Regions from separate parts of the Homo sapiens genome. Here all the other regions are linked to region 6. The links come from fine-mapping of genetic effects on gene expression. A gene starts in region 6. Each other region holds a variant in brackets. All regions are shown on one strand. Distances are from middle to middle. Region 1 has its middle 8.2 kb from the start of ZNF586. Region 2 overlaps ZNF8 (zinc finger protein 8). Region 3 overlaps ERVK3-1 (endogenous retrovirus group K3 member 1). Region 4 has its middle 11 kb from the start of ZNF132. Region 5 holds the start of RPS5 (ribosomal protein S5). Region 6 holds the start of A1BG-AS1 (A1BG antisense RNA 1).

The links. PIP is the estimated chance that this variant, and not a neighbour inherited with it, causes the effect.
Region 1: its variant is fine-mapped to the expression of A1BG-AS1 in atrial appendage (GTEx, PIP 0.96).
Region 2: its variant is fine-mapped to the expression of A1BG-AS1 in whole blood (TOPMed, PIP 0.95).
Region 3: its variant is fine-mapped to the expression of A1BG-AS1 in lung (GTEx, PIP 0.98).
Region 4: its variant is fine-mapped to the expression of A1BG-AS1 in whole blood (TOPMed, PIP above 0.99).
Region 5: its variant is fine-mapped to the expression of A1BG-AS1 in whole blood (TOPMed, PIP 0.97).

Annotation. Positions count from the first base shown.
Region 1 is chr19:57,758,963-57,764,033 of GRCh38, forward strand. No RefSeq gene overlaps it. Among named protein-coding and RNA genes, the nearest start is that of ZNF586, 8.2 kb to the right of the region's middle. The variant C/T (reference allele first, on the strand shown) is at 2,756.
Region 2 is chr19:58,296,014-58,301,084 of GRCh38, forward strand. ZNF8 (zinc finger protein 8) reads left to right here. Exons shown (of 4, transcript NM_021089.3): 4 at 1-5,071. The region is part of intron 4 of ZNF8-ERVK3-1 (ZNF8-ERVK3-1 readthrough (NMD candidate)); the gene reads left to right. Among named protein-coding and RNA genes, the nearest start is that of ERVK3-1, 6.8 kb to the right of the region's middle. The variant C/T (reference allele first, on the strand shown) is at 1,951.
Region 3 is chr19:58,316,718-58,321,788 of GRCh38, forward strand. It overlaps ERVK3-1 (endogenous retrovirus group K3 member 1), which reads left to right. Exons shown (of 4, transcript NM_001396080.1): 4 at 1-95. The region is part of intron 2 of LOC105372480 (a long non-coding RNA gene); the gene reads right to left. It also overlaps the pseudogene LOC100887072. Among named protein-coding and RNA genes, the nearest start is that of ZSCAN22, 7.7 kb to the right of the region's middle. The variant G/C (reference allele first, on the strand shown) is at 2,603.
Region 4 is chr19:58,426,322-58,431,392 of GRCh38, forward strand. It overlaps a transcript of ZNF324B not described here. Among named protein-coding and RNA genes, the nearest start is that of ZNF132, 11 kb to the right of the region's middle. The variant C/T (reference allele first, on the strand shown) is at 2,829.
Region 5 is chr19:58,382,666-58,387,726 of GRCh38, forward strand. It overlaps RPS5 (ribosomal protein S5), which reads left to right and starts at 4,604. Exons shown (of 6, transcript NM_001009.4): 1 at 4,604-4,674. It overlaps MIR4754 (microRNA 4754), which reads right to left and starts at 4,193; the gene lies at 4,105-4,193. RefSeq lists enhancers at 3,005-3,224, 3,245-3,314, 4,377-4,671, 4,865-4,914. The variant G/C (reference allele first, on the strand shown) is at 2,352.
Region 6 is chr19:58,349,694-58,354,764 of GRCh38, forward strand. It overlaps A1BG-AS1 (A1BG antisense RNA 1), which reads left to right and starts at 2,277. Exons shown (of 4, transcript NR_015380.2): 1 at 2,277-3,351; 2 at 3,686-3,781; 3 at 4,021-4,164; 4 at 4,676-5,071. A1BG (alpha-1-B glycoprotein) reads right to left here and starts at 3,799. Exons shown (of 8, transcript NM_130786.4): 1 at 3,711-3,799; 2 at 3,599-3,634; 3 at 3,235-3,504; 4 at 2,590-2,862; 5 at 1,698-1,994; 6 at 677-958. The coding sequence starts at 3,744. It overlaps ZNF497 (zinc finger protein 497), which reads right to left. Exons shown (of 3, transcript NM_198458.3): 3 at 4,664-5,071.

The DNA.
Region 1 (5,071 bases), 590 kb before region 6:
ATTCCTAAGGTTTCCCACTACAGGCTCTGGCTCGCAGATGGCTTTTCTGAATGTGCCTAGGATGGGGAGGAGCTTGCCACTCTGAAGGGAAGGACATAAACCTCGCTGGTTTTGCCCCCTGCTGATTGTAGAGTCCTAGGGCCTTGAACAAACAGGGAGTAGCCAGGAAGTGGTCAGTATGAGCCTTGGGCAGCACCCAGTTCTCTGCTGGCTACAGGTCTGACCCCACATAGTCCCATTGGTGGTGGCACAGGGGTACTTGTGTTACTGCTCCTCCAGCTAAAGGCAGCTCAGCACAAAGAAACTTTGGAAACCTGCCAGCAGGAGACTCAATGACCCCCATGAACACTTGAGCTGGCAGGGAGAGCTGCTTAGAGAAGTGGTAGGGACAGAACTCCAGCCAGTGCAGAGCCCAGAGGATTTGGGGTGGGAGCATCTCTAGTGGAGCACAGCTAGACACGCCCATATTTCAAGGTTCGCCTTGCTTCCCTAACAGACTTTAGCCCTAGGGAAGTCAGACCTGATCAGTGCAGGGCGTTCTTGCCGATAAGTTGGGGATGGTTGGACCTGAGCACCTCTTGGTCAGCTGGCCTCTCCCAGGGCTCCAGGCTACCCACACCTGCTTGCAGTGCGACCTCGGTTGCCCAGGTGGGGTCCCTTATGGGGGTGTACATCATAGCTCCTGTGCTGGTGAACTGCAGTTGATAAATCCCATAGTCGTGCAACAGCCCACCTGCACCTTCCCAAAACTGCGGCCTCTCTGAGACACTTTGCCTGCATGCATTCACCTATGGCCACCCCCGACGTTGCTTTGCCAGCATATGTGCATGCAAGTGGACCTTGCCTTCTCTTTTCCACCAGCATGCGTGTGCATGTGCACCCTGTCATGCTACAGCTGCCAGTGTGAGCACACCTCATCCCCCCAACTTTTCGCTGCACCACCATTGCTGTCAGAGCATTTGCGATCCCAGAGACTGCCAGCCCGCACCTGCCAGCACCCCACCCCTGGACCAGCACAAAACTACACAGACGAGCAGACACACTCCACTCACCAGTATCAGCTGCTACCCACGTGAATGCATGCACAGAGGGTACAAACAGTCCTGCACCTGCCAGCACCTTGCCTCCATATTAACTCCACTGCTGGTGTGAATGTGTACTGGGACATCAATGGAACCCCCTTCCCTACCCCCCCATGTTGTGCTGCCACCACCAGCACTGTGAACACTCACGTGGAGGCTGGCACCCCTACACCCACCAGCACTCCATCGCAGCCAATAAACGTACACCCCACCACTGCCATTGCTGCTGGCATGTGGGAACAAGGATGGATCCTGCTGCCACCACCCTAAGCACTGGGGCTGGCACTGCCCTTCAGAGTGTTGTTACCAATAGTCTGGGAACAACTTGACCCTCCAGCATGGCAGGTTTCTGACCTCCAGGGATCATAGGACAAAGCTGGATGCCTGATACCAGGCCCCGTGTATTAGAGCACACAGTCTAGTAGTCCTGAGCTGAGCCTTGGACCCCTAAAATGCTCCAGAAATTAAGACAGTTGACTGGAGCCACATTATACCACAAACTCTTAAGGGCACCAAAAAGGATAAAAGAAAAAGAAGTCCATCCAAAGTTCAGCAACTTCAAAGATTGAAGAAATATCAGCCAACAAAGATGAGAAAGAACCAGGGCAAGAACTCTGGTAACCGAAAAAGCCAGAGTGTCTTCTTACTTCAAAACAACCACACTAGTTCCCCAGCAGTAGTTCCTAACCAGACTGAGATGGCTGAAATAACATAAATAAAATCCAAAATATGGATAGGAATCAAGATCATTGACATACAGGAGAAAGTCAAAAACTAATCCAAGGAATCTATTGATTACAATAAAATAATACAGGAGCTGATAGACAAAATGGCCTTTATAAGAAAGAACCAGACTGACTTAATAGAGCTGAAAAATGCTCTACAAGAATTTCATAATGCAATCACAAGAATTAACCGCACTGTGGGAGGCCAAGGTGAGCAGATCGGTTGAGGCCAGGAGGTTGAGACCAGCCTGACCAACATGGCAAAACCCTGTCTCTACTAAAAAAATAATAATAATACAAAAAATTAGCCAGTTGTGGTGGTATGTGCCTGTAGTCCCAGCTGTTTGGGAGGCTGAGGCATGAGAATTGCTTGAACCCAGGAGGCAGAGGTTGCAGTAAACCGAGATTGCACCACTGAACTCCAGCCTGGGTGACAGAGTGAGATTCCGTCTCAAAAATAAAAATCAAAAAAAGAGAGAATGCTGAATATGGGATCCAGTCTCTTTTGTCTTGTAGGATTTCTACTGACAGGTCTGCTGTTAGCCTGACAGGGTTCCCTTTATAGGTGACCTGTCCCTTCTATCTAGCTGCCTTTAATATTTTCTGTTTCATTTCGACCTGGAAGGATCTGATGACTATGTGTCTCAGGGATGGTCTTCTTTGTAGTATTTTGCAGGGGTTCTCTGCATTTCCTGAATTTTAATGTTGGCCTCCCTAGCGAGGTCGGAGAAATTTTCATGAGTGATATCCTGAAATATGTTTTCCAAGTTGCTTGGTTTCTCTCCCTGTCTCTCAGGCATGCCAAAGAGTCATAGGCCACTTTATATAATCCCATATTTCTTGAAGGTTTTCTTCTGTGTTGTTTTTTCTTTTCTTTTCTTTTTTTTATTTTGAGACTGAGTCTTGCTCTTGTCGCCCAGGCTGGAGTGCAATGGCGCAACCTCGGCT[C/T]ACTGCAACCTCTGCCTCCCTGGTTCAAGCAATTCTCCGGCCTCAGCCTCCCGAGTAGCTAGGATTACAGGCGCCTGCCACCACGCCCAGCTAATTTTTGTATTTTTAGTAGAGATGGGGTTTCGCCATGTTGGCCAGGCTGGTCTCAAACTCCTGACCTCTTGATCTGTCCGCCTTGGCCTCCCAAAGTGCTGGAATTACAGATGTGAGCGACCGCACCAGGCCTGTTTTTTATTTTCCCTGAGTTGTTTCAGAGAGCCGGCCTTCATGCTCTGAGATTTTTTCCTCAACTTGGTCAATTCTTGTTTTTTTTTTTTTTCTTTTTTTTTTTTTTTGAGATGGTGTCTCACTCTATCGCCCAGGCTGGAGTGCAGCGGTGTGATCTCAGCTCACTGCAAGCTCCACCTCCCGGGTTCATGCCATTCTCCTGCCTCAGCCTCCCGAGTAGCTGGGACTACAGGCGCCTGCCACCACGCTTGGCTAATTTTTTTGTATTTTTAGTAGAGACAGGGTTTCACCATGTTAGGCAGGATGGTCTTGAACTCCTGACCTTGTGATCCACCTGCCTTGGTCTCCCAAAGTGCTGGGATTACAGGCATGAACCAATGCGCCCGGCTCAACTTGGTCAATTCTGTTAATTCTTTTTTTTTTTTCTTTTTTTTGAGACAAAGTCCCACTCGTGAGGTCTGGATCAAGACCGCTTTTCGGGTGACAGTGTCAATTGTCTACAGACTTAGGGAAAATTTTAATGGCCACACCAGTACAGATACAGGTGGCTCCAAATAAACCACTTCCCAATATTAAACAGTATTCATTGAAGCAGGAAGCTATAAGCTGGGTACGGTGTTGCACACCTGTAGTTTTAGCCTCTGTAAGCAGACAGGGAGGATCTCCATGGATTATAGGAATATAATCAACTTGAGCAATTACCCTGTTTTACAGCCTCCTCCCCTTCTGCCTGTACCTCTCCAAACCATGGTTTGAATGCAGTCACCTTGTTGGGCTAAAACAGCTCCTGACAGACCCCAAGCAGTGTAGATGAACCCAAGTTAACTTTCCTTATTAACATGCTGAAGTCTCCACTCTGGAAGGAGCTATAGCTTCATTACCATAACATGCTTTCTATGTGCTGGTATGACTCACTGCATCTGTGCAACTGGGACCCCAATTCTACATGCACTGATGCACCTTCTCCCATCACCATTATACCATAAAACTCTCCTGTTACTTGTCCTCAGGGAGACACTGCTTTGGAGAATACTCCCAGTGTCCTCTTTACTTGAGCCAAGTAATAAAAGTATTGATCAATACCTGTGTTCTCTGGCCGGGCGAGGTGGCTCGTGCCTGTAATCCCAGCACTTTGGGAGGCTGAGGCGGATGGATCACCTGAGGTGAGGAGTTCAAGAGCAGCCTGGCCAACATAGTGAAACCTTGCCTCTACTAAAAATACAAAAATTAACTGGGCATGATGGTGGGTGCCTGTAATCCCAGCTACTCCAAAAGCTGAGGCAGGAGATTCACTTCAACTGGGGAGGCGGAGGTTGCAGCGAGCCAAGATCCCGCCATTGCACTCCAGCCTGGGTGACAAGAGTGAAACTCCGTCTCAAAACAAACAAACAAACAAACAAAAACCTGTGTTCTCATGGAAAGTCATTTGTTATGCACCAGGTGAATGAACCTGGTATTTTTCAGGTAACACTACTCAGGATGCTGAGGCAGGAGGATCCCTTGAGCCCAGGAATTTGAAGCCACCCTGGGCAACATAGGGAGACATCATCTCAAAACAAGAAGCTATAATAGGAATAAAACAAATAACCAAAGATTACCTTGAAAAGGGATTGATTATCCCTTCCACCAGTCCTAATAGTCCCATCTTCCTGACACAAAACCTCACAGGAAAGGATGAAGATTTATACAAGATTTGAGAACTATTAATACTACTGTGATTCGGCCGGGCGCAGTGGCTCACACCTGTAATCCCAACACTTTGGGAGGCCGAGGCGAGCAGATCACGAGGTCAGGAGATCGAGACCATCCTGGCTAACACGGTGAAACCCCGTCTCTACTAAAAATAGAAAAAAAATTAGCCAGGTGTGGTGGCGGGTACCTGTAGTCCCAGCTACTCGGGAGGCTGAGGCAGGAGAATGGTGTGAACCTGGGAGGCGGAGCTTGCAGTGAGCTGAGATCACTCCACTGCACTCCAGCCTGGGCAACAGAGTGAGACTCTGTCTCAAAAAAAAAAAAAATACTACTGTGATTCCTCATCAACCAGTAGTTCTAAACCCCCACACTCTTTTATCCAATGTACATGTAAAC
Region 2 (5,071 bases), 54 kb before region 6:
GCCTTCCCATGTGGAACGTGACCTTCCAAAGTAGTGACTAACTCTTGGAAAAGTTTTTAACAACATAATATGCTATTGCATTTCTGGGAAATTCTGGGTAAATTCCAAGCATGCAGCAATTAGTTTGTGCTTATGTGTGAAGTCCAGTTAGGTTCTCAGTTCATACCCTGAAAACTGCTTATTCCACATCTGTTGATGTGGTCCACTGGGGGCAGTTCTGTTCCTCACCATCTTGGCAGCATGCATGGCTCCTGCCCACATTTCAACCACACCCCCAACCCAATTACGTGACCAGCCCCCACGAAATTTCACAGCATTCCGTGCAGGGGAGTGTCACAGCTCCTCTTGAAAAACATCTGGTGTTGCTATGAGCCAGAAGTTCTTTTTTTTGTTTTTTGTCTGAGATGGAGTCTCGCTCCGTCACCCAGGCTGGAGTGCAATGGCGCAGTCTGCTCACCACAACCTCCGCCTCCCAGGTTAAAGCAATTCTCCTGCCTTAGTCCCCCGAGTAGCTGGGATTACACGCACCTGCCACCACGCCCAGCTAATTTTTGTATTTTTGGTAGAAATGGGGTGTTGGCCAGGCTGATCTCAAACTCCTGACCTCGTGATCCACCCACCTCGGCCTCCCAAAGTGCTGGGTTTACAGGCATGAGCCACTATGCCCAGCTGAGCCAGAGGTTCTTAACTGGTGGTGCTTTTGCCTCCAGGGCACATTTGGTGACATCTAGGGACATTTTTGGTTGCTGTGCCTGGAGGAAGGGTGCCGCCGTCATGTAGTGGGTAGAGGCCAGGGACGCTGCTCAACATCCTTTAGTGCCCGGGACAGCTCCTCAACAAAGGATTCTCTAGCTCAAATGTCAATAGTGCCAAGGTGGAGAAGCCACCTGGGTATAAACCCAGCCCAGAAATGTAGCTGACATTTTTAAAACTTGCAGCCAGCTGTGGTGGCTCACGCTTGTGATCCCAGCACTGTGGGAGGCTGAGGAGGGCGGATCCTTTGAGGTCAGGAGTTTGAGACTAGCCTGGGCCCATGGCGAAACCCCATCTCTACTAAAAATACACAAATTAGCCAAGTGTGGTGACATGCGCCTGTAATTCTAGCTACCTGGGGGAGGCTGAGGCACGAGAATCGCTTGAACCTGGGAGGCAGAGGTTTCAGTGAACCGAGATTGCACCACTGCACTCCAGCCTGGGTGACAGAGCAAGACTCTGTCTCAGAAAAAAAAAAGAAAAGAAAAAAAACCTTCAAATTGATTAATCAGGGCTGGACTAGACTAGAAATCATATAAGCTTGATTTTAACAGATGGCATCATTAGCTAGTTTATACATGATGTACTTTTTAGTACATCCTTTACGGTTTTGCAGCATTCATAATTGATGTGAAATAAGGAAGATAATCCTTTTTTTTTTTTTGAGACAGAGTCTCACTCTTTTGCCCAGGCTGGAGTCAGTGTTGTAATCACTGCTCACTTGGCAGCCTCGACCTCCTGGGCTCAAGTGATCCTCCCACCCCAGCCTCCCAAGTAGCTGGGACCACAGGCATGTGCCACCATTCCTGATTTTTTTTATTTTTTGCAGAGACAGGGTCTCACTGTGTTGCCTAGGCTGGTCTCGAACCTTGGCGTCCCAAAGTGTTGAGATTATAGGCATGAGCCACTGTGCCCAGCCACTTATTTTTCTGAGTAACCTTTAAGGATGTATTGTGGACATTTTCAAACATGAGTCATATATTTTTGCTGGTACTCCCATCTACCTCCCCACCATTCTCCTTCCCTGGATATATATATAACCATGTTTGTCCACTGGGACAAAACCATTTTCACAATCATACTAAGCTGTCATTTCACATTTTTGCTGTGCACTGATAGTGTGAAAGCAATGGCAGGTAAAACTGCTGAGCCTGAGTTCAAAGCAGGGCAGTAGCCCTGAGGTTGGTTGTTCATATT[C/T]TTCTCCACTGGGAAATGCAGTAAAGAAAAAGAAAAGCTAATTTCACTTAATTTCTTTTCTTTTCTTTTTTTTTTTTTTCTTTTGAGACGGAGTCTCGCTCTGTCGCCCAGGCTGGAGTGCAATGGCGTGATCTCGGCTCACTGCAACCTCCACCTCCACGGTTCACGCCATTCTCCTGCCTCAGCCTCCCGAGTAGCTGGGACTACAGGTGTGCGCCATCTTGCCCAGCTACTTTTTTGTATTTTTAGTAGAGATGGGGTTTCACCATGTTAGACAGGATGGTGTCGATCTTCTGACCTCATAATCCGCCCACCTCGGCCTCCCAAAGTGCTGGGATTACAGGCATGAGCCACTGCGCCTGGCCCTCTTTTTCTTTTTGAGATGGAGTATTGCTCTGTCGCCCAGGCTGGAGTGCAGTGGCACAATCTTGGCTCACTGCAACCTCCGCCTCCCGGGTTCAAGCAGTTCTCATGCTTCAGCCCTCTAAGTAGCTGGGATGACAGGTGTGCGCTACCACACCCGGCTAATTTTTGTATTTTTAGTAGAGATGGGGTTTTACCATGTTGGCCAGGCTGGTCTCAAACTCATGACCTCAAGTAATCTGCCCGCCTCAGTCTCCCAAAATGCTGGCATTACAGGCATGAGCCACCGTGCCTGGCCTACTTTCACTGAATTTCTGTGATGAAACGGGAAAAATTAATTTTGTTAAATCTCAAGTAGAACTATATTGTCATTATCACATCTAAACAGATATCATCAAATACCTAGTGTTCAGATGTTCTGGGTTGCCTCATAAATTTTGTTTTCTATTTGTTTCATAGTAATCATAATCTAAACAAGATCCACACAGTGCATTTGGTTGGAATTTTTCTTTTTTCTTTTTCTTTTTTTTTTTTGTGATGGAGACTTGCTCTGTCACGTGGTTCACTGCAACCTCCCAGGTTCAAGCAATTCTCCTGCCTCAGCCGCCCCTGTAGCTGGGACTGCAGGCATGCACCACCACACTCAGCAGATTTCTTAATTGTTTGTAGAGATGGGGTTTTACTACATTGCCTAGGCCAGTTTCAAACTGGGCTCAAGCGATCCTCCCACCTTGGCCATCCAAAGTGCTAGGATTACAGGTGTGAGCCAATGCACCCTGCCAAACAGCAATTTTTTTTTTTTTTGAGACAGAGTCTCGCTGTGTCACCCAGGCTGGAGTGCAGTGGTGCGATCTCGGCTCACTGCAAGCTCCGCCTCCCAGGTTCATGCCATTCTCCTGCCTCAGCCTCCCGAGTAGCTGGGACTACAGGCGCCCGCCACCACGCCCGGCAAATTTTTTGCGTTTTTAGTAGAGACGGGGTTTCACCCTGTTAGCCAGGATGGTCTCAATCTCCTGACCTCGTGATCCACCTGCCTCGGCCTCCCAAAGTGCTGGGGTTACAGGAGTGAGCCACCGCGCCTGGCCCCAAAACAGCAATTTGAATAACCATGTTGGAATGGTTGAGCATTGGAACGCATTAGCATCAGAACTTCCCGTGTCAGGCCAGGCGCGGTGGCTCACGCCTGTAATCCCAGCACTTTCGGAGGCCGAGATGGGCAGATCACGAGGTCAGGAGATCGAGACCAGCCTGGCTAACACGGTGAAACCCTGTCTCTACTAAAAATACAAAAAATTAGCCTGGCGTGGTGGCGGGCGCCTGTAGTCCCAGCTACTCGGGAGGCTGAGGCGGGAGAATGGCGTGAACCTGGGAGGCAGAGCTTGCAGTGAGCTGAGATAGTGCCTCTGCACTCCAGCCTGGGTGACAGAGCTAGACTCCATCTCGAAAAAAATAAAAGAACTTCCCGTGTCCGTTTTTGCTTTTTGGATGCTGGGAGTGTCACAACTCAGCTATCCAATCAAGGCAGAGCTGGCCTCCAGGATGCCAGAGCCAGAGCTTTGTGGTTCATCTCTAGAGGTTCAACAGGACCCTGTGGATGGCCCAAGTTCGTTTCTCTGCACTTACCTCTTCGGGGTTGTCCTCAAAACGTTGCCGTGTCAGCTCTCACTTTTCACAGCAACTCTGGCCTCCTACCTTGGACTGCGCCACTTCTGTCTCCTTAGATAACCTCCATTCGCATAGCTAAATGCTGCACCCTCCGACACTGCCACAATAATAGTTCTGTGAGTTAGTACCATTTTATAGATAGGCAAAATTTGGCACAGGACAAAAGTTAGTGGTAACTAGAACAAAAGTAACCAGCCCAAGCTAGGAAGTGGTGGAGTTAGAATTTGATGTCAGCACCCAGCTGACCATGGCTTAAACAGATGAGGCTTTGTTCAAAGGCTGTCTTTTCAGTGGCTCAGCTGTGTCACAGTCGATGTTTTCTGCAATCTCTCAACCTTTCCATTGTGGTCATGAGGAGACTCCTATGGCTCCAGCCATTGCATCCACAGTGAAGACTGAAAGAAGGGGGAATGGGCAGGCCAACACTTACCGCTGATGGTGTTTAAAGGAAAAACATTCCCAGAAGCCTGCAGCACATGCCCCCCTTAGTCTCACTGGCCACAGATGGGTCAGGGGGCCACCCCTAATAACAACGGGGCTTAGAAACCTCGTATTTACCTTTCTAACCTCTGTGGTGGAGACAGGTGGGAGAGAAAAGTCCTGGGAAGTGGATGATGGAGGCAGCTAGCCGTAGCTGCTGCTTTTCTCTTCAAGCTCTTGGGAGAATTGCTTGTGCTCCCTATTCCCTTGGTGGATGATGGAGGCAGCTAGCCGTATCTGCTGCTTTTCTCCTTCAAGCTCTTGGGAGAATCGCTTGTGCTCCCTATTCCCTTGGTGGCAGCTCACACCTCAGACCTGCTGTCCGCCCCCACTGCTTCACAGAACCCACTGCAACCACTGTCCAAGGTACTACCTCTGGTGTCGTCTCTCTTCATCCCCAGGACTGTGAAGCCTGCTAACCTCTTTGCAGAGCTCCATCTCCTTGCATTGTGGGGTTCCTTCTAACTCTTCAGGGACTTCTCAACCTCCCGTCACCCTTCCTAAATGCTGGGGTCCTAGAGTCCACCTTGTGCTCCACGCCCTCCCCAGGTGTCATCTACATCCCTAGCTTTGTGCTGCTCACCACCAAATCAGTCTGGTGCTTCTGAGATTT
Region 3 (5,071 bases), 33 kb before region 6:
TCAGAGAGAAAACCAAGAATGTTACAAAGGTACCTATCTAACAAGAGAAAAACATGTCCATACATTTTATTAATAAAATCCAAAACTTTGTTAAATGTAATTCATTCCTTAATGAGCAAAAAGCTTTTCACAGGAGGTTCCATTTTATAGATAGGAAACAGACCCCAAGGGAGGTGAGCAGCCCAGAATTACAGCAGAGAGTGGTGAAGATTTGATCCTAGATCTGACAGCCTCTACCATCATACTTGCCATTCTCAGCTTAGGAATAAGATGGGGAGGAAGGTGTGGGTAATGGGCAAATCAGGGCCCAAATAGTCTGTTCAGTACTCTTGTCTCGTGGGAAGGAACAAAAGGCCCCACATCTGCCCTTCCTCCTGGGAGTCTCTGTTAGGACCTGAATTCAGTACAGCAGGAATGATCAATTTTTCTCTTTAGAGCACTCACCCACTTGACATCTCACTTTGTTCTCACATAGTCCTCATAGAGGTATCCTGTGGCTGCTGTCCTTGAAGCCTGATAGCATGGAGCTGAGGCCTCAGACTATAACAGGGCACATAATTTTCATGAAGTTCAAGAAGAGGCTGGGCTGGGCGCGGTGGCTCATGCCTGTAGTCCTAGCACTTTGGGAGGCCAAGGAGGGTAGATCACCTGAGGTCAGGAATTCGAGACCAGCCTGGCTGACGTGGCAAAACCCTGTCTCTACTAAAAATACAAAAATTATCCTGGCATGGTGGCAGGTGCCTATAATCCCAGCTACTCGGGAGGCTGAGGCAGGAGAAGCGCTTGAATCCGGGGGGCAGAGCTTCCAATGAGCCAAGATTGCACTATTTCACCCCAGCCTGGACAAAAGAGGAAAACTACGTCTTAAAAAAAAAAAAAAAAAATTAGGCTGGGACACCTTTCCTGGAAGGGCTACTTACTACAGGGGAGCTGTCTAAGGTGCTGAAATGTCCTAGCCCTGCGCTGTCCAATATGGTAGTTATGATTAAATTCAAATAAAATTACAAGTTCCATGTCCCAGTCACACCAGCTATGTTTCCAGTACTCAGGAGCTACCTGACACTGATGGTGCCATATTGGACAGCACAACTCCAGAACTTTTCCATCCTCACAGAACATTCTAGAATTTAATTTGAATGCTAGTTACACAGGGCTGTGCATTTACCAAATTCACTAAGCTGAGCACTTGTAATTCTGTAAAACATGTATATGTATTTTTGAAAGCACAAAGTTTCACGTCCCCGCCTGCCAGTCACTTTACCAAACAACCTTTGGTTTAACTTCTCTGTGCCCCAGTTTCCCAACCTGTAAAAGAGAGTAATGATACCTCCCCTTTGATTGGTTGAGAGTACCACCAAAGGTGTTTGCTGGGTGGCCTGACCTGCAGGAGGTGCTCAGGAAAGGGGAGCTGCTGCTGTCATTTGGTGGAAGTGGGTCCCCTTATCTGGCTAGCAGATGCCTTGAGTTATGGTGAGTATGATGGGGACAGACTCCCAGGAGGATGGAATGGCATCACTCTGTGGAAAGACTGTGAAACAGAACACGAACACCTCATGGCATCTTTGCTGCCTAGAGCCATGCCACTTGCACACCCTCCTTCTGCTCCTGACTCCCAGGAAGGCAAGGGGGTCACTGGGCTTGGGGCTCCACAGAAAGAGGCTTCCTGATTTGATGCTTAAGAGCTGTGCCTCAGACGCCTGCCTCTAAAACAGAAAGCCGTCCACACAGACACCCCACCTCATCTGGGTACCTCCTCTGGACCTAGGCTGGGTCCCCACAGGCAGCCACAGCCATCTATGCTGCTGCCCCCACACTGCCTCTGGCTGTGGGCTTCTCGAGGGCTTGCTGTGTGATGCTGAGTTCCTTAACGTGGAGACAATGTGTTGGAGTGTGGCAGTGTTCAGGCCCTGCTAGCCAAATAAGGGGACCCACTTCCACCAAATGACAGCAGCAGCTCCCCTTTCCTGAGCACCTCCTGCAGGTCAGGCTGCTCAGCAAACACCTTTGATGGTACTCTCAACCAATCAAAGGGGAGCTATCATCATTACCCTCTTTTACAGGTTGGGAAACTGGGGCACAGAAAAGTTAAACCAAAGGTTGTTTGGTAAGTGACTGGCAGGCAGAGATGTGAAACTTTGTGCTTTCAAAAATACATGTATATTTTTTACAGACGTACATGTGCTCAGCTTAGTGAGGAAACTAGGAAACAGGCCCAGAGCTGGGATATGGTCAGTCAGTGGCATGAAGAGCCGAGAGTGGAGCCTGGCAGGAATTTCCAGCTGGCATCCATTTGTTACTGAATATCAGGGCACTCCCCCAGAGACACAAGCCACCCCTAACCACATTCTGGAAAACGATCTCACGTGTGTTTCCGTCCTAGATCAGGGGTGCTCCTGCCAAGGAGAGGGTGTATGTGGGGAGGCCTGCAGCTGTTTCCCAGACCTTAATCAGCCACAAGGAGTCCACGCTGGGGAGGGTGTACTGCCATGTAGTGGGTGGGAAGATACCTTTGGCAAGAACACGTGCCTTGTGAGCTATCAGCAGATTCCCAACAAAAGGAGACCCTGTACGTGCGAAGAGTGTGGCAAGGCCTTTGGACAGA[G/C]AAGTCACCTTGTTCAGCACACCAGTGAGAAGCTGTATGCATGCCAGGAATGTGGGTGTACCTTCAGCAACAATTCATCTCTAGTCAAGCACTGGCACGTCCACACAGGCGAGAAGCCCTACATGTGTGGCCACTGTGGCAAGTGCTTCCGAGAGAGCTCATCCCTTGCCAAGCACCAGCGTGTGCACACAGGTGAGAAGCCATACGTGTGTGGTGAGTGTGGACGCACCTTCAGCGAGAGCACACACCTTGTACAGCACTGGTGATTCCACACCGGGGAAAAGCCATTTGCCTGCCAAGAGCAGCAAAGCCTTTGCTGACTTCTCGGCCCTCCTTGCATGCCACGGAACCTACACGGGTGAGAGGCCCTACGAGTGCCGGGTATGCTGCAAGGCATTCAGCCCCAGCTTGTCCCTGGCTGAGCACATACGCTGCCACACGGGAGAGAAGCTGTATGCGTGTCAGGAATGTGGGAAAGCTTTCAGCCACAGCTCATCCCTCAGCAAGCACCAGCAGGTACACACAGGTGAGTGGCCCTATGTGTGTGCAGAATGTGGAAAGGCCTTCAGCCAGGGGTCCTACCTGACCCAGCACCTCAAGATCCACAGCGGTGAGAAGCCGTACATACGTGGTGAGTAAAGGAAGCCATTCGGTGACTCCTCAGCCCTGGTCCTACACCAGCGGGTGCACACAGGCGAGCATCCTTATGCATGTGGAAAATGTGGGAAGACTTTCAGCCACAGCAAGTTTCTCACCCAGCATGAGCAAGTCCGCATGGGAGAGAAGCCCTTCATGTGTGGTGACTGTGGAAGAGCCTTCATGCAAACCTCATCCCTCGCCCTCCATCAGAGGACTCACAATGGGGAGAAGCCCTACAAGTGGAATGAGTGTGGCAAGTCCTGCATCCAGATGTCACACCTCACCGAGTATTACCAGGTACACGCTGGGGAACGACCCTTTCAGCCGTGGCACACACCTCACGCAGCACCAGCATGTGCATGCATGTACCAAGCCATTCATATGCCATATATGTCAGAAAACCTTCCAGGAGGCCACAACTCTTGTACTACATGAGAGGATTCCCTGGAGAGAAGCCCTTTTGAGTGTTGTGAGTGTGGCAAAGCCTTCCGCCAAAGCAGATTCCTGGCCCAGCACCAGAGAATTCATTCCCAGGGAAAACCATGTGAATACATGGATATCAGAAAGCCCTCAGTGACGCTTTGGTTCTTGTATGTCAGTGAACTGGGCATGTGCCAAATATGGCAGAGATCTTCCCATCTATCCTTGGTGTGTTGTCCTTTGCACCGGGGTGGCAGGTGAAGAGGGACTGTGAGTGTGAGGAAATCAGGGTCAGTGTGAGAAGCCCCTATTATACATTTCTCCCTTCAGGGTCACCGGGGCGGGTGAGGAAGCTGGGAGTGGGCCTAGGATATGTCTTTCAGATGTCACATGGAGATACTTCTCCATAATTATCAAGGGGCACAATGGCCACTTCCACTTTAATTAGATTCCCATGGATGCTAACCAAGTGGTAGGAGGTACACAGGTATGAACAGGTTTCCTCTCAGCAGTCCTAGAAGACTTTATTTCAGTTTTTGCCAAGACAAAAATGAAATTTAAAAAATGTGGGTTTTTTTGTTTTTTGTTTTTTTGTTTTTTTGAGACGGAGTCTTGCTTTGTCGCCCAGGCTAGAGTGCAGTGGCGCAATCTCGGCTCACTGCCAACCTCCGCCTCCTGGGTTCAAGTGATTCTCCTGCCTCATCCTCCCGAGTAGCTGGGATTACAGGCCCCCGCCACCAAACCCAGCTTTTTGTATTTTTAGTAGAGATGGGGTTTCACCATCTTGGCCAGGCTGATCTTGAACTCCTGACCTCGTGATCCACCCACCTCGGCCTCCCAAAGTGTTGGGATTACAGGCATGAGCCACTGCGCCCGCCCAAAAAAATACATATTTTTAAAAGATGCTTTTGCAGTTGTTTGTGCCTTGTATTAAGGTAGACCATATAGTTTGGGGTTTTATTGCCCAGAACCAAAAAGGTAAAATTTATATGCTGAAGTGTGTGTCACAGAGTCTAGCTCTTTAAGAAGAAAATTTTGTGTGTTCCTCAGCTTCAGCATGAGGACGTCACTAAAACTAGTTGAGACAGTGATGATGTTCGTTAAGATTTTACTGAGCACTTTAGAAGCACTTTAAGTAGATTGTCCCATTCCATCCTCTTAGCCGGCCTGGGATGTATTTTTATTCCCACTTCATACATCAGGGAGCTGAGACTTTGAGAGGTTAAATCACTTGCCCAGTGCCCCTAGCTAAAAGGCACTCACTTTTCAGGACGAAAATACTTGAGTTAATGGATAAGGCCAAGGTGGCAGAAGTATTTCCTTCCCTTTTACCAATGCCCAGAGGTATTTACTGGAATTCTAGAACTGAGGAGGCAGTTCTAGAATATAAAGTCCTATTGAGCATGGGAG
Region 4 (5,071 bases), 77 kb after region 6:
AGTGGGTGTGGCCTAAGGAGAATGTAGTGATTCCCACTGTCGGTGTAAAGGGCTTCATATTGATGGAGAGTTTTCTGTGTTGTCAGAAGTTCTGGTGGACACTGTGAGACAGATTTCATGGATTTATAGATGAGACAGCTGAAGCTTGGGAGTCTGTGCCCCAGATCGCACAATTTATTAGCAGTAGGAGTCCAAGTTGAGCCAAGCCAGAGAAGGTTACTGAGTGTTTTGGCACCCTTGGCCTTAATCTGCTGCTCTTCAGATTTCACAGCCCCCATGTTCCAGATAGTTCACTCAAAGCTTGGGAGTTGGAGATGAGGGAATCAACAGATGCTGACACTAGCATGAAGGAGAGGTATAGCTGATCTGGAGGTATGATTGGGAGAGGTTGAGAAGCCTTTCAAGGGTGTCCCTGATGTGGGAGGGCACAAGCAAAGGCCCAGGGGCAAGGAACTGCCCAGTAGATTCCAGAAGAGAACTACCATTGCATACAGCAGAGTGTACAATAACAGGGTAGTCAGTACACTGCATCAAGGGGCTGAAGGCAACTGCCTTTTGGTTTGAGCATAGTCTGAAAGCAGTGGAGCCACTGAATCCCACAAAAGCTGGTAACCTGGACAGCTCAAAAGTCACAGCCATCAGGACTTTGCCTGGAATATTCTGGCATTATTGGCAAACATCTATCTTCCCCTAACAGGTTGGCTGCTGTATACTGAGACCCAGTCGGAGATCAGAAGGCAGGTTCAGTAGAAACACGTAGGACTCTACTCATGTATTAGGAATCTTTTTTTTTTCCTTTTTTATTTTTATTTTTTATTATTTTTTTGAGACGGAGTTTCACTCTTGTTGCCCAGGCTGGAGTGCAATGGCGTGATCTCAGCTCACTGCAACCTCTGCCTCCCAGGCTCAAGCAATTCTCCTGCCTCCTGAGTAGCTGGGATTACACGCATGCGCCACCATGCCTGGCTTTTTTCTTTCTTTCTTTCTTTCTTTCTTTCTTTCTTTCTTTCTTTCTTTCTTTCTCTTTCCTTTCTTTCTTTCTTTCTTTCTTTCTTTCTTTCTTTCTTTCTTTCTTTCTTTCTTTCCTTCCTTCCTTCCTTCCTTCCTTCCTTCCTTCCTTCCTTTCCTTTCCCTTCCTTCCTTCCTTCCTTCCTTCCTTCCTTCCTTCCTTCCTTTCTTTCTTTTTCTTTCTTTCTTTCTTTCTTTCTTTTCTTGTAGAGATGGGATTTCTCCATGTTGGTCAGGCTGGTCTCAAAGTCCCAACCTCAGGTGATCCGCCCGCATTGGCCTCCCAAAGTGCTGGGATTACATGCGTGAGCTACCGCGCCCAGCCTTTTTTTTTTCCTGTTTTAGAGACAAGGTCTCATTATGTTGCCCAGGCTGGAGTGCAGTGGTGCAAACATAGCTCACTGCAGTCTTGAACTCCTGGGATCCAGTGATCCTCCTGCCTCAAGTAGCTGGAAACAGGCATGCCACAATCATGCCCAGCACCATCTTATGAGATCTAATCTTGGCCACTCACACAGAGGATTGAGCTCTGATGACGTGTCTACCCTAACTTTATTTGCTTAGAAGGCTGAGCCCCATATGGCTCAGCTAACCTTTAATTCTGATCCCACATGTGTCTTACATATTGGAGACATTAGCATCTTCCATATTGGAGACATTACACTCAGGAAGGAAGGCCTGAGTAGGGTAGGTATCCCCCAGACACCTCACTGTGCTGGGGAGTATTTGAGAAGCCCTGCTGTAAACTTTGCTGACGGCAAAACTGTTGTGGCTTCTGCTCACAATGTGGTTATCATTGTCCATCCCCTCAGGGGCTTCCAGGAGACGTGGCAGCTGCAGTGGCCTCTGATCCATCATACAGTATGGATGGACACCACAGGCCAAAGATTCTCATGTCAGAGGATTTCCGGTCTTTTCTCCCCTAGGCCTCAGGAGGACCCAGGGAAATATCTAAAGCCAACCTATAGTTTTGGTGAACTGAGTTTGCATTGAAATGTTTTTGGAAATGATTTTCAACATTTATAAAATCACATGCCACATAGAAATCTGAATATTTGGCTCTTCTTGGAAAACCAGGAGATATGGGAAATCTGTACTGACTCCACCATATTGTCTCCCCACCCCTTAAGAGGGACAGACCTGCTTGGTGGCCACCAGAAGTGGAATTATGAAGGCCACGGCCATATGATTCTCAAGAAACCCTGGCTACTCACATAAGCCACTCCAGACCATGATTTCTGTCTTCTCTGTCTTGAGGTGCCTACCTGTGCAGTGATGGCCATGAGATGAACAGCCCAGGGAGTCCACAGGAAATCCACAAAATATTTATTTGAATTTCAGTTATGAGTGACACATAGGTCTGCATGTCCTGAGAAGTTCTGTACACCCTTATCTCACTTGGCCATAGTCATTGGAAGTTTCTGATGTGCGTTTAGAACAGACATGTCCCCTCTTGTCTACCACAGTCTTCTCCACACTTAGAGTTTTTGTACCAATGATAGTTCCCACATAGCCCTGGCAGGTCTGAACCAGTTATGCCTGCCTACTGAGTTTTATATTTCATGAGTCATGAGCCATGGGCAGGTACTGGGGGATGTAGCTGGTAAAGTGGGACATGCATTGGGAACAGAGGACCAAACTTTTGCTGTGGAGGTTCTCAAAGAAACTACCCCATTCTTCAGAGCTAGCTCTGGGCCCACAGGTGACCCTTGGTGTCCAGATCACAAGATTCAGTCCAAGCCTGTCAGTCTTTCATAGGAGGCCTTAGGGCAACAAGACAAATTCAACCAAAACTGGACTGAGCACTCTTCCTGCCCATG[C/T]GGCTGTTTGAGACACTCAGTGCCCCCTTACAAAAGCTGTTCTTTTTATATTAGGATGAATTGTTTCAAACCACCTCACCAACTCTGATGCAGGTGGCTAAACATTAAGGCCTTTGTTATCTCAGAGAGAGACAGGCAGATCCAGGAGTGAGTGATTGAGACTAAACAGATCATTCCTAAGTGTCACATGTAGATGCAAACAATGTCCATGAAGAGAAACCTTTTCTTCTATTTTAGATGGAGTCTCACACTGTCGCCCAGGCTGGAGTGCAGTGGCACGATCTCGGCTCACTGCACACCCTGCCTCCCAGGTTCACACCATTCTCCTGCCTCAGCCTCCTAAGTAGCTGGGACTACAGGCACCCGCCACCACACCTGGCTAATTTTTTGTATTTTTAGTAGAGGTGGGTTTTCACCATGTTAGCCAGGATGGTCTCGATCTCCTGACCTCATGATCTGCCTGCCTCAGCTTCCCAAAGTGCTGGGATTATAGGCATGAGCCACTGTGCCCGGCCAAGAAACCTTTTCTGGAAAGCTCCAGAAGACACCAGCTCAGATCTTAGCAAGAATTGTCATACCAAAATCTAAAGCCATCAGTGGGAAAGAAAATGAAGGTACTCAAAGCCTATGTAATTCTCTCTAGAGAATGGAAAAGGGAGTATAGTCTGCTTTCCCTTAGCACAGTGAGGGAGACTGATACATATCATGAGATCTTGCCAGGTGGCAGAGATGAGACAGTATGGCAGGCAGCTTTGGACATGGCTTCCAATGATCTCTGCCCTCTGGTATTCATGCTCTTGTGTAATGCTCTCCCCTTGACTGTGGGCTGGACCAAGTGACTTGCTTCTAACTAAATTTAGCAAAGATGATGGGATCTCACTTCTGTTATTAGGTTACAAATGACTGACTTGTTGGTATTCTCCACTGCATGATCAGCTTGCAAGCTTTGATTGACAAGCTGCCATTTTGGAGAGGCCCATGTGGCAGAGAACTGGAGGAGGTCTCAGACCAACAGACGGGTCCTCAGTCCAGCAGCCCACAAAAAACTGAATGCTGCCAATTACATGAGTTTGCTTGGAAGCAGAGCCTTCCCTAGTCAAGCCTTCAGATGATACACCCCCAGCTGACATCTTGATGTTAGCCTTGTGAGAAACCCTAAAGAGGAGTCAGCTAGCTGCACCAAAGTTCCTGACCTATAGAGACTGTGAAATAGTGACTATTGTTTTAAGCCACTAGGTTTTGAGTAATTTGTTACACAGCAATAGGTAACTAATACAGATGGCTTCTGCAATAGCAGTAATACAGTGCCGCCTAAGATTCTGGGAGCTGTGGCTTTCCCACATTTGTTGCCCATAACTCTCTTGTGAATTCTCTGGTGATTTTTCTTAAAAGGGGGTGTCTATAGCTGAAGGCTTTCCCATTTTCACTGCATTTGTAATGCCTTTTTCCCATAGGTACTTTATATAGCTTTCTCACATAGGAGAGGTGACTGAAGACCATCCCACATTCCTTAGATGCAGGGGTTTTCTCTACTGTGAATTTTTTGGTTATAGATAAGAATCGATTTCTTCTTGAGGGTCTTTCTTCATACCAAGTATTTAAAGATCTCTCTTCAGTGTGGGTTCTTAGGTGGTTGAAGAGGGCAAAAGTCTTCATGTCTTCCCATAGCCACTGCTCTTGAAGGGCTTCTCCCTATCATGGCCTGCCCGGTGTTATCTGATGTTAGAGCTGTGTGGCAGCATCTTCTCACTCAGCTCTTCTTCATGGCTTCCCTGTGCCATGAGTACTCTGGTGATGGAGAAAGGAAGGCCTTTCCACATTCTCTTTTGAGCTTCTCATTATTCTGGTACTCCAGTGCTGGAAGGGGGTAGTTACCCTGGAAAGCCTTCACAAATGCCTGGCCCTTGAGTCCTCTCACTTATGAATTTTGCTGTGCATGAACTGAAAAGTGCTCTTACTGTGAGCCATGTCACATCTGAAAAGGTGGTCTTCACCATAAATGGTCTACTGTTGGTGAAGGTTTGATCCACTCCCTTGTGTGGGGTTTCTACCTGGAGTACACTGCCTAACGTTCAGCCAGGAGTACAATCTTTGGCAGGGCAAGGGTGCCATGGTCAGGGTGAGGAACGACCAGTCATGGAGTACTGGTCCTGTCACATATCCCACTACTGAGCCTGTTAGGTGACATTCACATAGGCAGGGAGAACAGAGAGGGATCTAGGACAGATGTGGAAGCAGCAGTG
Region 5 (5,061 bases), 33 kb after region 6:
TCCCAGGTTCAAGCAGTTCTCTGCCTCAGCCTCCCGAGTAGCTGGGATTATAGGTGCCCACGACCTCGCCCGGCTAATTTTTGTATTTTTAGTAGAGATGGGGTTTCACCATCTTGGCCAGGCTGGTCTTGAATTCCTGACCTCATGATCCACCCGCCTCGGCCTCACAAAGTGCTGGGATTCAGGCATGAGCCACTGCACCCGGCCTGACACAAGTAGGATTTCTCACACCTGTGGATGCACTGCTACTGGAGGAGTCTTGAGCCTATGTGGAAGAACTTCCCACTCCCAGGCACAGAAAGGGCCTCCCTCTGGAGTGAAGATTCTGGTGGTACCACAGGCCTGGCCACCACACAAAGGCCTTGTCCCTGCAGGGCTGGCATGGGGTGACTGGCAGCCCTGGAGTGGAGTTTGAAGCACCAATGAAAGGCCTAACCACTTGGCAGGCACAGGTGCGGGGGACTTGTCTGGAGGGGACCGGCTATGGGGGCTGTGACAGTCTGTAGGCTTTCTTCACTTCTACACAAGCCTGTTGTCTAAGTGGACCCTGCAGGGTTCATGCAGGGGCAGCACCAGAGAAGCATCTTGTGACAATGGTTACACAGGAGCGATTTCAGGAATGAGACTGAATCAGGCAAGGACCTGGAGAGGAAGCTCCAGTGGGGCTCCCACCCAAGGGGTCCAACTTTACCAATCCCACAGGTCCCCAGTCTGGGGCTCATTCTATGTCTGTAGGCCTGGGACCCTGCACCCAGGAGAGTTGTCCTGCTACCGGCCATCCCTCCGCAGAGGTCCCCCTCTGGCTCTATGCTGTCTTCAGCAAAGGGCCTCTGCTCCATTTCACACCTCTCCTGAGGGCCTGGGGTAGCTTACTGCGAAGCAGCCTCAGGGAATAGAGGCTTCAGCAGGGCATCTTGGCCCCCAACACAGAATCCTGGTTGTAGGATCTGGAAGAACAGAGGAGAAATGGAAGTTGGCAGTTCCCAGGAGGGGAGAAGGTGCTGGTGAGCCACGAAAGCAAACCCCAGTGGCTGAAGCATCCTGGATGACTCGGCCACATTTCCTTAAGAATCTTTGTGTGTGTGTGTGTGTGAGACGGAGTCCCATTCTGTCACCCAGGCTGGAGTGAAGTGGTGCGATCTTGGCTCACTGCAACCTCCACCGCCCAGGTTCAAGTGATTCTCTTGCTTCAGCCTCCCGAGTAGCTGAGACTACAAGCGCCCGCCACCACGCCTGGCTAATTTTTTTGTATTTTTAGTAGAGATGGGGTTTCACTGTGTTAGCCAAGATGGTCTCGATCTCCTGACCTCGTGATGTGCCCGCCTCGGCCTCCCAAAGTGCTGGGATTACAGGCATGAGCCACCATGCCCGGCCCTCTTCTGTCTCTTATAAGGACACTTGTCATTGGATTTAGGGTCCACCCTACTAATCCTAGATGCTCTCATCTTGGGATCCTTGACTAAATTACATCTGCAAAGATTTTTTTCCAATAGGTCACATTCGCTGGGTCTGGGTATTAGGGCATGAACTTACCTTTTTGGGGGCCACCATTCAATCCATTACAGGTGGGCATCCCATAGAAGCAGACAGTGGCTAGGCCAAAGTAGCCCATGAAGTATCAGCCATGGGCACAAGATCAAGTTTGGGATGCGGCAGGGCCAGGCTTGGCTCTGCCAGGCAACTGGGTGGACTGAATCCAGCACACTCCAAACGAGTTGATAATCAGGCTGGGGACTTCAACAGACAACCAAGGTGCCAGTAAAGGCATTAAGGAGCTATCACGGCCAGGTGCGGTGGCTCACACCTGTAATCCCAGCACTTTGGGAGGCCGAGGCAGGCGGATCACGAGGTTAGGAGATCGAGACCATCCTGGCTAACAGTGAAACCCCATCTCTACTAAAAATACAAAAAAAATAGCCGGGCGTGGTGGCGGGCGCCTGTAGTCCCAGCTACTCGGGAGGCTGAGGCAGGAGAATGGCATGAACCCAGGAGGCGGAGCTTGCAGTGAGCCAAGATTGCGCCACTGCACTCCAGCCTGGGCAACAGAGTGAGACTCCGTCACAAAAAAAAAAAAGGAGCCATCACAAGGATGTAAGATCAGCTAACAGTAAGACTGTGGCTGGTAGGGTGGACAGGCAAAGTGACTGCCTGGAGAGTGGGCAGGTGGCCCAGCAGGGCCCAGAGGGTGCCTTCCCAGAAGTGAGGAGTCCAGTCTGGGGCCGGCCACTCAGGATGGACACAATGTACCAGAAGTGAGGTAGATCTCTGCAGAGTCTCTGGGGTCCTCATCCAGTCTGAAGAACACAGCACCAGCAGCCCTAGATCTATGAGGTCAGACTCTGCATCTTATC[G/C]TAGCACCTTGGGGACCTGGGGAGGCTGGACCACCCTGGACCTGGTGGCGGGGGTGGGGGGTGCATGAGTCTCGGCTCTGCAGTATTCACCACGCCACACTTGAGGGCACCTGCCCTCTGCAGCACGATGAGTCATTCTCATGAGGTCTGTAAAGATGTCCATTATCAAATGACCATGGTAGCCAGGCCACAGGGTTCACATTGACGTTGCCTCATTGCATTCTCATTTCCACACTGAAGGGGAAAACAGGTTCAGAGGGGTGGGCTCACTGTCCTGATGAGTGCTGCCTGTTTTCTCCCACCCTCCCTACAACCAGCACCCCCATGCCCCTCACTCAAGACCAGGGAGAAGCCCACCTAGCCCCTCCTGCAACCACACAGACCCCAGTGGGAGCCCCAAGGCTGCTACTCTGCACAGGATGGAGGGCAGGGGTAAAGGCCATTAGGCGGTGGCAGTAGGCCGTGCCCCTCACCAGAGGCTGAGGTCTGACCCCTTGACCAGCCCAGCTTCAGGGCATGTGTCCTTTCATGAGCTGTGACTGACCACAGTCCAAGGGCCCACTGTGGGGAGTCCTCAGCATATTTGGACAGAAACGCCCCAGAATTGGGGTAAGAAGAGCCTTTACAGTCAGGCAGTGAAGAAACACAGCTGCTGGGCACCTGCTATGTGCACGCCTCAGGGATGGGAGTAGGGGGCAGGCCCAGCCCTGGGACCTGGGTCAGGTGGCTGGGCCCTTCGGATCCCGAGTTGGAGGGATAACCCCTTGGAGGCAGAGATGGGCATCAGAGACAGGGCGGCCCCAGGTGGTCCTGGAGTCGCCTCGTAAAGGTTATGTCTATGCCTGCTGCAGGCAGAGACACAGTCAAAGTAGTTGCTACCTCTGGAAAGTCCCAGTTCTGCTCATGAGCCTAGATCTAAGAGGCTGGGACAGGCAGAGGGGTATGAAGGGGTCATGGGCAGGCAGACTGTCCACACTGGCTGCCAGGGTGGCCAAGTGAGTAGAGTGAGCTGGGGCACTCACTACCGTGCCAACCCCACGCACGGATGAGGACCCCGGGTCGAAGGCCCACATCCTCAATCCCACGCAATAGTTCAGGCCCTGTGAGAGGGTTCGCTGTCTGCTCCCAGCCAGGGCTGAGCTGTTCAGAGGCCCTACCTGTTCAGAGGCAGCTGGGGGAAGGGACAGAAGTTGGGGGGCAGGGGATTGTGTGCTGGCGGGAATAATCTCCTTCATCTCATGGCTAAATCTTCCATCCCTCCTTTCAACCTTTGGCCAGAAACCTACGTTTCTGACCCTTGGAGAGGTCGGCCAGTTCAAGAGGCACCCCTGAGAGCCACGTCTGCAGACACGAGGGCCTCGTGACGTGAGCCCTGAGGGCAGGGGGCTGCAACCCCTCGCGCGGGCTCCCCGGCCGTGGAGGACACAAGGACAAACACGAAGGGTCCCCGACCTGCCGACCCCCTCCTCCCGGACACCGCGCGTAGCCTGTAGGCTACCTCCGCGCTCCACCCAGAGACGGGTCGCGCTGCTCCCGCCGCCGCAACCCCGGGCCCTCGTGCCGGCGGTCTCCCCTCTTCCACGGGCGAGATTACTGCATAGCAGAGGTGAAGGGCGCGGAGGCTGTGGGGGAACCCAGCGTGGTATGGCAGGAAAGGTCGAGCAGGGAAACAGGCCCAGCCAGAGGCTCGGGATCCGGGGCTCGCGAGCGTGGTGCTCCTGGGCCGGGCGGTGGGGGAGGGGCCGCGTGTGGCAGGCACATGCGCACGGCAACCTGGACCTGCGGAGGGCGGCGGTGACCACTGGGCCTCACTCCGCTAACCCAGGTCCGCATCAGGCGCGTGCCGGTGAGGCGGCTGTGGCCGCGGCGAGGAGTCAGAGGGAACTGAACTGGCTACTCCCGCGGCAGGTGGGATTTAAGGTCAGCAGCTGAACAAAGAAGCGAGCGCTGGCCAGACTTTTTTCTTTATTAGACATGGCTGCGTTGGTCTCACGGAAATCTCTGCGCTTTTGCAGGCGCCCACAAGACAGGGCAACTACGGGGTAGCGGACATCCGCCAGGCACGCTTCTAGGGCCGCTTCTGCAACTGCGCATGCGCTTGGGCTGCACCCATTCCGTCTAGCCCAAAAGGTTCCTCTACAACCTTCCTCCGGATTGGTCTATAGGGACACGATGGCCTTTTACGCAAGCGTCACCCGTGCTGACCCGGAAGTTTTCTTCCCAGTTAAAAGTGTTGGCCCGCGGCGCGCGGCCTCTTCCTGTCTGTACCAGGGCGGCGCGTGGTCTACGCCGAGTGACAGAGACGCTCAGGCTGTGTTCTCAGGTGAGACCGCCGCGGGGCCGGGGATCCTAGGGACGGTTCATGGTCTTTCGGGGATAGTGCCCCGCGGCCTGGGCCTTTTCTCATTAGGTCTCATTTCTGTCTCTGGAAAAGAAAATGTAGAAGAAACGGGCGCGGGCCGAGTTACTCTTGACTTCTTTCTGGTGCTCCGCCGCTTCTAGCTTTTCCCCATAGCGGGGCTTGGGGAACTTGGTTTGAACTATGCGGTTGTACTCTGAGATAGGAAGTTTCCATTTCTTAGGGACACGATGCCCTCTTTTGCTCTGTGTAACTTTCCCCCCGTAATAGCAGCCCCTAGAGCCTTCATACTGTCGGTCAAGAATCGAAACCTTTGGGTTGATTGTGCCACACGGTACCTACCGTGGTCCT
Region 6 (5,071 bases):
AGATGGGGTTGGGGGGCAGAGATGAGAGAGAGAGAAAGAAGAAAAAAGAAGAAAGAAAAGAGAGAAAGAAGGAAGGAAGAAAGAAAGAAGGAAAGAGAAAGAAAGAAAGAGGAAGGAAGGCAGGAAAGAAAAGAAAGAAAGTGAAAGAAAAGAGAAAACGGTGCTCCCAGCAAAGGGTACGACCTCAAGATCTGGAGGTCAGACCTGTGCCCTCACGCTCTGCTGGGCTCTGAGTCCTGGAGACGTCGATGAGGAAATCAGAGGGACAAACAGAGCTGGGGACGGCGGGGATGGGGAGAAGGACACATCAGCCGTGCGCCTGCGGGACCGGGGCCGGGGCGGGGGGTCCAGTATGACGACTGACATGGCCAGTAATAAAACAAGGCAGCCACAGAGCTGCAGGGATCTGAACAAGAAAACCTGGGGCCAGCCTCCCTGCTGCCGACCACCACGCTACACGTGACCTACGGGCTTGCGTCCGTGGGAAATAAGCCGAAATTCCAGGCGTCCCCAGACCCTCGACCACCGATCGCCTGCTCCCCGCCGGGGTAGGCGATGGGGGCTGAACCAAGGCCCAGAGCGCCGCCGTCGGACGCCCAAGGAAAGAGGGGAAAGACAGGAGGCCCCGAGGGGCACTGAACCCGCGCCCGCCCTCGCTGGTGCCCCGCCAGCTCACCGTCCACGTGCAGCTCCAAGCGCTCGCTGGGCGCGGAGCCCCCGAAAGGCGGCTTCAGGTCCACGTAGACGCAGCTGTAGTTGGCGGAGTCAGCCACGGAAATGTTGTGCAGCTCGAAGAGCGCCTCGGTCCCAGCGGGGCTCTGGAAACGGTGCACGCGGCGCCCGCCCCTGTCCTCGCGCACCAGGGCGAAGCGCGCGCCCTCCAGGGGCGCCAGGCACCGCAGCCGCAAGGCCCTGCCGGACTCCGGCTCCGGGGAGAACTCCGGCGCGGGCAGCGTCTCTGCGGAGCAGCACACGGGCTGACCCGGGCGCCCAGCGGCTGGCTCGGCCCTAACGCGTGGTCTGGCCTCGCGCTCTTTGCCTTGGCTGAGTCTTCTGCCCGCAATGACCTGGCCAGCTTCCTCCCTCGCCTCCTCCGGGCCCGCCCCACCTTTGCATCCCAGTCCTTGGATATCTCACACGCACCCTTTCACTGTTTCTTAGTAATTTGTTTGTCTACAGACACAGACGGGAAGCGGGGACGGGGACATGTTTTGTGCATGGCTTGATGCCTGGTGCACGATGCCGCTCAGTAGTGGATTTGCTCCACGAGCGTCTTCTGAGCACCGCCCCAATGCCCGCCCCACGGAGGGGCCCCTGTGGTCCGCTGGGCATGGGGTTCGCTGTCCGGTGCTCAGAGTTTGCTAAATACCATCAGGTCCAAGGCAAGCGAGCGGAGGAGCTGCCTCAGCAGAGGCCCTCAGTGCTCACCTAGACCTGGCAGCTGGGATGGGACCTGCCAGGTGGTGCCCCCTGTGGCCTGGGCCAGACCTGTTCACCCAGTTATTCCCTGTGGGGCCTGAAGGTTGTCACGCTCATCATCATATTTGCAGTTTAGGACCCTGAATCGGCGGGTGGGCGGATAAAGTTGGTATTGGACCCTGGCCCAGAGCACTGCACTTCCCCAGACTCTACACCTGGTACTGCTCCTGCTCCCCAGGGACCCAGCCGCGTCCCTGTCCCTGCTGGCCCCGGCTCACCATCGCTCAGAATCAGCTCGACCGGCGCGCTGTCCCCGGACCAGCCGTTTTGGTTGTCATGCAGCCGGTAGCGGCAGGTGTAGTGACCTCCATCCCCCAGGGCCACCGCGTTCAGGTGAAAGAAGATGCGATCTGGGCTGGTGCTGCTCCTGGGTACCAGCAGCTCTTTCTCCCCGCGCCGTAGCTGGAAGTCCACTCCACTCAGGGGAGCCACGCAGGTGAGGGTCACCTTGTTGCCAGGGTGCAGGACCTGGGAGGACTCTCCATGGTGCATCAGCACAGGCGGTGGTGGTGCAGCTGCAATGCAGGCAGCATTACTAGGCTGCCCCATCCCTGGAGCTGCCCTCTGCCCAGTCCCCAGACCTCTGCCCTCCGGGTGGCAATCCCAGGAACACCCTTCCATTCTTTTTTTTTTTTTTTTTTGAAACGGAGTTTCGCTCTTGTTGCCCAGGCTGGAGTGCAGTGGCGCCACTCAGCTCACTGCAAGCTCTGCCTCCCAGGTTCAAGGGATTCTCCTGCCTCAGCCTCCTGAGTAGCTGGTACTACAGGCACCTGCCACCACACCTGGCTAATTTTTGTATTTTTAGTAGAGACGGGGTTTCGTCATGTTGGGTAGACTGGTCTCGATCTCTTGACCTCATGATCCGCTGGCCTCAGCCTCCCAAAGTGCTGGGATTATAGGCGTGAGCCACCGCACCCGGCCTCACCCTTCCATTCTTTGGGCATCCTCTGCCCAAACTCCTTTGCAACCATCAGACCCAGGCAACCGTGTGGCCAGCTTCCTGGACCTGGTCCTGGGCAAGGACATTCAGCATGGAGGTCAGGATGAATGTGGTCATGCCCCCTGTATCCTCCTCCCCCAGCAGCCCCCAGAGATGGTTCCCACAGTCACCGAGCTCCTCAATGGTCACAGTAGCGCTGGGCTCAGAGAGGGCGCCTTCCCCATCGGTCCGGTAGCTGCAGCTGTAGTTGCCAGGCTGATGGACTGGAAAGGTGGCCTCCACATCCTCCTGGGCCTCAGGCACCTCCAGAAACTCATGGTCGCCCTCCCGCCTCAGCAGAAAAGTCACACCCCGCAGCACACCTCGGCACACTGCTGTTGTTTTCAGGCCGGGGGTGATCCAGGACACTGGCGCCATCGAGAGCCAGGGAGCAGGCAAGGACTCTGTGGGTGGGGTGGAGTTGAAGAGTGCTTCTGCATAACAGGAGACGTGGGAAGCCCAGCAGAACCTGGGCCCCACACTCATAAGACTGTGAAGGAGACAGGGATGGAGGGCATTGCTGGGAAAAGGCAGGCAGGCACCAGTGGAAACAAGGCATACGGCAAGAGAAAAAGAGTGTGTGGGAGCTGTACGGCATGCCGGGCCTGCTGGGGACACAACCATGTATTCCTTACAACACAGACATCATCCCCATTTGACAGATGGGAAGATTGGGGCTTGGGGCTCAGAGACATCGGGTGACTTGGAGGAAGGGAGACCCCCCAGTCAACAACCTACCCACTGCCTCCTGGCCCCCAATTCATGCCCCGGCTCACTTGGCCCTGTCAGCTCCAGGAGCTTGCTCAGCTGGGTCCATCCTGTGGACAAGCCCGAGCGGCAGCGGTAGCGGCCCTGGGTGTCACCCGTCAGCAGGAACTGGTGCTTGATGGCAGGTGAGTCAAGGTGCACAGGCTCCTGGGCCACCCCATTCTTGAACAGCTGGAAGTCTGGAGTCTCCAGGTGGGCCTGGCACGTCAGCGTCACATTGGCCAAGGGTTTCAGCAGTGATTCGGACTCTGCCCACAGGCTGGGCTGCGTCTCATAAACTGCAAGGGGTGGCTGGGATCAGCTCAGTGCCACAGAGACAGGGCTCCCCCCCGGCCTGGGCCCACCATTCCCAGACCTCACCCCTGCACTCACATATGGCTGCTTCTGTCACTGGGCCCCAGGTGACACCTGCGGAGACAGCCCCCGTAAGGCTCCTGTTCCCGCCCCCTCCCGCCCCAGGGACCCAGACCCCAGGAGGCCTCACCCCACAGCAAGAGAAAGACCACGAGCATGGACATGATGGTCGCGCTCACTCCGGTGCAGTGAGTGTCTGGGGTGAGCGTCTGCAGCAATGAGGCCCCAAGGGAGGGCGGTGGGGTGGCTCGGGCACTGACCTCTTCCCGTGTTTGTCCTTCCCGGAAGGCGGGGGCAGGGCCCCCATGGGGTCAGGGCAAAGGGTGAACTTCTGAGGCCTCAGGATGCCCAGCAACAATTATAATCAATAATCATGTATGATTAATAAACTAAATCAAGAGTGATAAAATGATGTTAAAACCACCTCATCCTCATTTCAGTGATGGATCCTAGAACCTGTTCTAGAAGGAGACGCTGAGTTCTCCCCACTCTACCTGGAGCTGCTGAGGTCAAGTGGAGAGTGCCGGGGCTGAAGCCCAGCGAGCCCCTCCCTGTCACACCACACTGCACATGTGACACCAAAGGTGGGGTTCACCTCTTTTCAGACTTTCTGCGGTTGCCCTCACATGGGCTGTCTGGAGGTGCACCCTCACTCTTCCTGAGGACTGTGGTTCCTTCTCCATCACTGGTTCATTCTGCATGGTGTGACCCACCACGGCTCTGGAGTCGGATTTCCACCCAGGTCATTCAGCTGAGACCTGCGCTTCCCAGGCCTACCCGTGACATGTGCTCAGTTACCTGAGCTGCTGGTGGTCACTCATGTGGCTATAGCCTGCTGCCTGGAGGCCAGGCCTCCCGCTTCCCCTGCCTCCCCCTCTCCTCACCACAGCCTGTTGGGATGGAACAGGACAGGGGTGAGACCGTGGTGCTTTCACACTCAGCCTCCATGGACATCCTGTCATTCCCACCCGGGGAGGTCTGGTCCCCACCCTGGGTGTCCCAGCCTAGCTCCGCTACGAGTGTGAGGGCCCAGGGCAACCGCCTAGCCCTCATCTGCCCCCTGCACTGCATCCTCCCCACTCATTCATTCCACAGGCATTTATTGAGCATCTACTGTGTGCCAGATGCAAAGAAGACAGTGGGATAACTGGGCAAGGAGCATTCCAGGCAGAGGGAACAGCCAGTGCAAACATGGGAGATGCGGGTGCAGTGAGAAGGAGCAGAGGAGACCAGGAGTTGAGGCGACTGCAGAGCGATTGCAGAGCTCATAGACGTGATGAAGACCAGCTGGGCACTGCAGCGGCTCTGGCTTCTGCTGTGAGGGACGGGGAGCTGTGGAGACTCCCTCTGTTTGGTCCCATTTCCATATTGCTGAGCACCTGCTGCATGCTCTCTGTCCTGCTCAGAGCCAGTACCTGGATGGAGGCTGTGTGTTCTGGGTGGACTGGGGGAGAATGCATTCTTTGCAGAAGAGACAACCAGGTGCTGAGG